2 linked regions of the Homo sapiens genome follow. The protein of the gene in region 1 purifies or fractionates together with the protein of each later gene. This does not show direct contact. Each region holds a gene or a part of one and is shown on either strand. Other genes may lie near its edges.

The links.
Region 2: the proteins of DAB2IP (region 1) and EVA1A fractionate together in Homo sapiens (co-fractionation; one large-scale study listed by BioGRID). This does not show direct contact.

What each region holds. Positions count from the first base shown.
Region 1 is NC_000009.12:121,766,315-121,770,133, forward strand, and holds part of DAB2IP (disabled homolog 2-interacting protein), read left to right. Parts: intron 1-179; coding exon 180-416; intron 417-2,117; coding exon 2,118-2,319; intron 2,320-3,819. UniProt on the Homo sapiens protein: Functions as a scaffold protein implicated in the regulation of a large spectrum of both general and specialized signaling pathways.
Region 2 is NC_000002.12:75,491,798-75,495,238, reverse strand, and holds the end of EVA1A (protein eva-1 homolog A), read left to right. Parts: intron 1-1,629; coding exon 1,630-2,003; 3' UTR 2,004-2,921; downstream 2,922-3,441. UniProt on the Homo sapiens protein: Acts as a regulator of programmed cell death, mediating both autophagy and apoptosis.

The sequences.
Region 1 (3,819 bases):
AGCCACCCTGTATTGACTGCTCTCCCCAGATGGCTGTGTCCTCAGAGCTCAGACAGCGGGGCTGACCTCACGCAGCTGGCGGGGTAGAGCCAAGGTTGGAATGCAGGTTCCTGCTCTGTGCACTCCTGTCCTGGGCCCCTGCCTGACAGCCAAGCCCACCTTTGTCTGTCCCTACACAGTGTCTTCCCACGGGAGTTGAAAGAGGTGTTTGCCTCGTGGAGGCAGGAGTGCAGCAGTCGCGGCCGCCCGGACATCAGTGAGCGGCTCATCAGCGCCTCCCTCTTCCTGCGCTTCCTCTGCCCAGCCATCATGTCGCCCTCACTCTTCAACCTGCTGCAGGAGTACCCTGATGACCGCACTGCCCGCACCCTCACCCTCATCGCCAAGGTCACCCAGAACCTGGCCAACTTTGCCAAGTGAGTGCCTCCTCCCTCACCAGGCAGAGTTGGGCAGGGCTGGTGTCCACAGGGCAGGCCCTGGGGGTGTTTCTGCCCCCAAGCTGAGCAGAGACCATAAACAGGCCCTGGTTTTGTCCCTGTCATCCTCAGTCCTTCTCCTTCCCGCTTTTTAAAAAATAAAATCTCCACACCCTGTCCTTCTACTCAAGGTATATGTCATTTTGGTATGTTTCTTAATTTTTAAAGGTGACGACATGAGACATTTTTTTCCTTCTGCTTTTTTGAATTAATGTATTATTATAAGGATTCTCACATATCCCTTAACATTCATTAAGCCCTGTTTTGAAATAAATGACTAATATTCCTCCAAGGGGGACTGGCCCATATTTCCTTAATCCATTCCCTGTGCTTGGGCACTTGGGTTGGGCACCACCATCCTGGTGTCAGGCTATCAGGATGTCTTTGCTGATAAAGCACTATTGGTGTTTTTGGCTGCATCCTTAGAGCAAGTGGGCAGAAGTAGAAGGGCTGGGTCGTCTCACTGTTGTTCATTCTCAAAACATAGATTGAGCCCCATCCTGGGGCCATCTGTGTGCTGGGCTCTGACGGCACCAAGATGAATCAGTCCTGGTGGCGCTCAGCACTTCAGCCAGGGAGACGTGTGGAATGAGCAGGAGAGCAGTGATAGACACACACGAGCCTCTTAGGAGGGCTCTCAGCTTGTTGGGAGAGGAGACAGGAAAGCCTCCAGGGTGACATGATCCCCCAACTGCATGTCAGGGTGAGGCGTTCATTGTCTCAAGAGGAGCAGAGGCTGGGCATCCCAGGGAGGGCCATGCACTGTGCCAGGTCAGGAGAAGCGGGCGATGAGACCTAAGAGGACAGCAGGGACCTGAAGGCCAGACAGGGCTGTGGGAGCCACCAGAGGGTTTTAAACAAGGGAGAGGATGGCCTTCCTCTGTTCTGGATCCTGAAAAGCTCACCCTGACAGCAGTGGGCAGATGGGTTGGAGGGAGCAGGATGGTAGCCAGGAGACGTGAAAGGAGAGCATAGCTGTGGTTCCAGCAACAATAGCAGAAAATTCGCAGGGAGGGGAGCGGGTACAGGAGGCAGTGGCTGCAAGGGACAAGGTTAGGGGTGATTAGAAGGCAAAATCAGTGGGCCGTGCCATTTGGGAATGAGGAAGAGGGAGGAGTTGACAGCTGCCAGAGATTCTGTCTCAGGTGTATCTGTATGGGTAGTGGGGTCTCCACTTAGGGTAGGGAGCTCAGGAGGAGGGCATGGGTTTGGGTGTTGATGATGACTTCAGGTGTGGCAGGCTGAGTAGGAGGGACTCCCAGGGGTGGTGCCTGCAGATATATTAATACATGCCTGAAAGCTCATTGGGAGACCTGGGTTGAGCAGGGATTGAGCATCATCTGCATACCAGGGCAGTGAAACTTGGAGGAAAAGCCGAAGGACACTGTTAACAGGCAGTGTATGGGGGACACAGAACATTCCAGGTCCTGAGATAAAAGGTTCAGAAAAGGATCGCTGGACTTACCATGAGCAAGGAGGGCCCTGGTGACCTGGGTCAGAGCATATTCAGCTGACTTGGGGAGTGAATGGAGTGGGAGCCTGCCATAGTGGGGAAAGCGGGTGGTGGTGTCCCAGTGGAGGGAGTTCCTGGGCAGGGCCTGCCTGGGCCCAGTAGTGCTCACCCAACTGCCCTCTCTCCAGATTTGGCAGCAAGGAGGAATACATGTCCTTCATGAACCAGTTCCTAGAGCATGAGTGGACCAACATGCAGCGCTTCCTGCTGGAGATCTCCAACCCCGAGACCCTCTCCAATACAGCCGGCTTCGAGGGCTACATCGACCTGGGCCGCGAGCTCTCCAGCCTGCACTCACTGCTCTGGGAGGCCGTCAGCCAGCTGGAGCAGGTGCCTGTTGCCGTGGGGCGGAGGTGGGGCCAAAAGCTGCCATCAGGCTTTTAGTGTTCCCCCTTCCAGAGTAACCATGGAGGGCAGAGAGTTTGCCCAAGTGGCATGATCAGGCCAGGTCCTGTCAGAACACACTGGGGATCTGTGGGCCCCATTTTCTCTGTGGGCAAATGCTATGTTCACTCAGCAGTATCTGCCAAGGCTGCCCCACTCTGGGTACTAGAGCTGGGGTGTTCCGCATGCACTCAGCCTTTAGTGGACAAGCGCCACTGTGCTGCCTGCCAGAGCATGTGAGAAATAGAATTGGATCGTGAATCCGCCTGTATGAAGAAGATGACTCAAGACCCTGTACCTCCACTTGTCCAGCAGGAAGTCGAAAACCTTTCTAGGATTGCCCTTGACCATCAGTTGACAAGGTTACTCCCTAGACACCTCTGACACTGCTGCAGTCACCTGAAGTGAGCCCTCCCTAGCCCGAGACTTCACTGACCCCCAGCCTCAGCCCACACAGTGAGCAACTAGTTCTTGGACTTAAGGGCTGGGTCTACCAGGAACTACTTCCCGAATATCTGTTGCTTTCTAGGGCTCCAAGGGACCACCTTACTTTTGTAAGGTGCTGAAACTGGCCTGGAAGGCCCTTCATGCCTCCTGGTCCCATTCCCTAGAGGTGACCGCTCAGAGCACTGGTATGCAGCCTTCTGGACACGATCTGTGCATGTGTAAGCGCACACACACATGCAGGCGCACACACATAGAGCTCTTTTCCTTCTTCAGTTTGTTTTAAAGCAAGAACATACTGTGTATGCTGCTGTGTGCATTTCTTACCACTGTGTTGTGGGCCTCTTTGCTTGTCAGTGCAATCTCCACCACCCCCAGGGACTTTTTAATGACTGCATTGTATGAATGCTATTTATTTCACCAGTCCCCTATTGATGGACACTTAGGTTAGTCCTGACTTTTCACTAGAAATAGGTCCTGTTGCAATCAAAGGCCATCATTTTTGCTCATTTGTATCCACTTGCCTTTGGCTGTGAGAGACACAGGAGGGAGAAATGGAAATGAGGGCTGAGACCCTACATTCCACCTGTTCCAGTCCCTGCACTGCAGCCAACACTAGTCACTGTCACTGCCACCACTTACCTTTCCCCTGTGCTGTCCACGTATCTGCACAACCAGGCAGGAAGAATGGAAGGTGATCAGTATTGTCACATCGGTGATAGGGTGCAACAGGGATTTGAAACTCAACTGTTTGCCTCTCAATTGCGTGCTCTATTGCCTGCATGAGTTTTCACACTTTGTTTTCTCACAGAGACCTCTGTGGAAGCTTGTGCATAAACAGGTGAAGGCAGTGTCCCCAAAGCCTAGAATCCTCTGCCCCTTAAGTTCTCTAAAGCGTGCCAGCAAGGTTCAGATGGGTTCAGGCACTGCCTTCTGCCTGACCAGCACCTGAGGGTGCCTGCAGTGTGCTTGGACCATCTCCACTGGGGCTCAGGTGCCAAG
Region 2 (3,441 bases), on another chromosome or scaffold:
GTCTCCCCAGTAGACTAGGTGCATTCTGAGAACAAGAACTGAATCTTATTTAAGTCTTTGAATTTCCAGAACCTACAAAAATTGTCCAAATATACACAAAGGCATAAGAATGATATAATAGACTGTGGGGACTCAGGGGAAATTGGTGGGAGGGGGGTGAGGGATAAAAGACCATACATTGGGTACGGTGTACTCAAGGCCAGGCCTGTTCCTTTGTCCTCGTAGGTACCTAGAATGAAAACTGTTCACTCAAAGACTCCCATTCTGTTAAGCACATCTTACAGGGGTCACAACTAGGCCCCCTAAGCATACTGATCATTAACAGAATGACTGTTATCTTCTCTCACCAAGGAAAGAGCTCTAATTTCTCCTCCCCTTTCAGTTAACCTGCTGAGGCCACTCCTAAATACCTATACTGGCTTTCAATGTGTGACTGATTGCAACTATTGCTTTTTACAAAACTACCCCAAAACTTAGTGGCTGAAAACACACATTTATTATCTCCCAGTTTCTACAGGTCAGAAATCTGGGTGTGGCTTAGCTGGGTTCCTTGGTTCAAGGTTTCTCACAGGCCACTGCAAGGCCAGGACTGTGGTCCCCTCAAGACTAGATGGAGGGATGATTCACAACCAAGCTCATTCACATGGCTGTTGGCACCATTCCTCAAAGGGTGTTGGCCAAAGGCCACCCTTAGTTCCTTGCCACTTGGACTTCCCCATAAGGCAGCTCACACATGGCAGCTGGCTTCATCAGAACCAGCAAGTAAGAAGAGCCCCAGAGAAGGAGAGAGTAAGAGAACAAGACAAAATCACAGTCTTATGTAACCTAATCTTAGAATCACCCATTGCTTTTGCCATATCCTACAGTCGTCCCTCGGTATACGCAGGGCATTGGTTCCAGCATCCCTGTGTTTACCCCAGTCCGTGCATGCATACTTAAGTTCTGCAGATGACCCTGCAGAAGCCACATATTTGAAAAGCTGACACTCCTTATATGTGGATTTCTCATCTCGCAAATAATGTATTTTCGATCTACATGTTTGTTTGAACAAAATCCATGTATAGGTGTCCTGTGCTGTTCAAACCCATGTTGTCCAAGGGTCAACTGTATTTCTTAGAAGTCACTAGGTCCACCACTTGAGGGGAGAGGATTGCACAAGCGTGTGAATACTAGGAGATGGGGTTCATCTCAGAAGCTGTCTACCACTGTGATGAAAGGGTAATTCAGTGGGGGTGTATGAGCAAATTCTCAAGTAAAGCTGTTTTGGCCTAGGTGAAAAGAGGCTTTAGATAGATACATCTCTTAAACAAATGACACCTAAGCACGGCTGCTTGCGTACAGTAGGTGCTAAATAATTACTGTTTTTCTTTCTTTTACCTTTTCATTTGGGAATAATCTCTAAGTTAAAGTTGCAAGAAGAGTGAAAGAATTTCATATACCTTTCACAGATTCACCGTTTGTCAATAATTATATTTTGAATACATTATAAAATATGTCACATTGGAGGACAATATTTGTAACCATCAAAACTTTGGGGCCTGGTGAGAAGTGTAGGCTGGAGTCATATTGGATCTCTGCATATGGAGTTGTCATCTCTCAAATGCTTGCTTCTTCCTCTTCTTCCTCCAGAAAATCCTGAGCGAGCAGCTCTGTACTTTGTTTCTGGCGTGTGCATCGGGCTGGTGCTGACCCTGGCTGCTCTGGTGATAAGGATCTCTTGCCACACAGACTGCAGGCGGCGTCCCGGGAAGAAGTTCCTGCAGGACAGAGAGAGCAGCAGCGACAGCAGCGACAGCGAGGATGGCAGTGAGGACACCGTGTCCGATCTCTCCGTGCGGAGACACCGCCGCTTCGAGAGGACTTTGAACAAGAATGTGTTCACCTCTGCGGAGGAGCTGGAGCGCGCCCAGCGGCTGGAGGAGCGCGAGCGCATCATCAGGGAGATCTGGATGAATGGCCAGCCTGAGGTGCCCGGGACCAGGAGCCTGAATCGCTACTATTAGGGAGCAGCAGGACCCCGGAAACCACTGGAGGCCGCCTGGAAAGGAGAGCGTCTGCAGGGACAGTGGGCACAAGGAACTGAACCCAGCTCTGCTAATATTGTGATTTCAGAGAAAAAGCAGGACATGCCCCTTTTCTAGCCAGGAGGATTGCTCCTTTTTGGCCAAATGTATGGAGAAGTAGAAAAATCAAAGCAGTTCATCACCCTTTCCAGGTCTCGGAATGGTGCTGAAAAATCCTCTCCAACACTGTGGATGGAGATCGGAGAAACGCGACTGTGGTTTCTCTTGATTTCTGAGGATCTCAGAAGTTTCAGCAGACTTCCTTGCTCTGTGTTATTCCTTTGCAAAAGGAAAGATCATTATAGCATGAGGGCTGGGAATAGCAGGGTGAACTTAACCCAATAAATGCAATTTCCTAAATGACTTCATGCTATGGAGGTGATTCTGATTCAAATAGCATGATCCATGCTTATTATTTAAGGCTGATTTTTAAAATCTTGTGTTGCAAGGGCAACCTCGTCCATTTTAACTGGCACCTCAGGGATTAAAATCCTACTTTTTAGTGTAGTTCCCACCTCATTCATGAAAATGAATAGAACTATTGTATTATGGGAGATGTGTCAGTGAACTAGAAAATGTCAATAACCTCAAAGGATGAAGGGTTTTTATTTTAAATAGTTTATAAAATATATATTGACATGCATATTTGAAAATGCTGCATAAAAATAAAAGTGGTGTGTTTTCCCCCTCTTTGGAGACAAGAAAATTTTATTATGACTCTAGATAATTGTGATTTTAAACACTTTGTTTTTTTTTTTTTTTTTAATTGGATTTCAAAGAAAAGAATGGAAATGAGAGGTAAGGATTAAAGCCAAAGTTAGGATGGGAATTAAAAAAATAAACATTACATAAAATCTTTTTGGTTGCATGTCCGTCTCTGTGGTTACCCTTACCTTAAATGACAACCCTTTTATATACGTGGGTATGGGCTTTTGCCAGGCCCCTCAAGGATTAGAGTGGGGAGATGGTTCCCGTGTGATAATGGGCTTTTCACTTTCTGTAGGTTATATGTATGATTGCTATAGTTGAGTTGTTAAGCAGATAGAGGAATAGAAGACTTCCCTAAAGCTAGAAATAAGATGGTAGCCCTTATATGAAAAGAAGTTGGTAGGGAAGGAGGAGAAGCCAGGCTCTGCCAATTTAGAAATAGGTTACAGAGGACAAAACATCCCCTAAGCTGGTAAACAGGAAGAGTGAGACCTGTCTCTCTGTTGACTCCCTTCTCTTGTCATGGAGTAGATTCCTAGTCAGTCTATCTGGGTGCTCCAGGGCCTTCCTGCTGGGAGGCTCTCCCCTGTTCATTGACTTTGTCACCATGCTTAAGAGGATGGTCAGGAGACTTCCTCTGGTGAGGTCTCCACTGCTTTAGCAACCCACT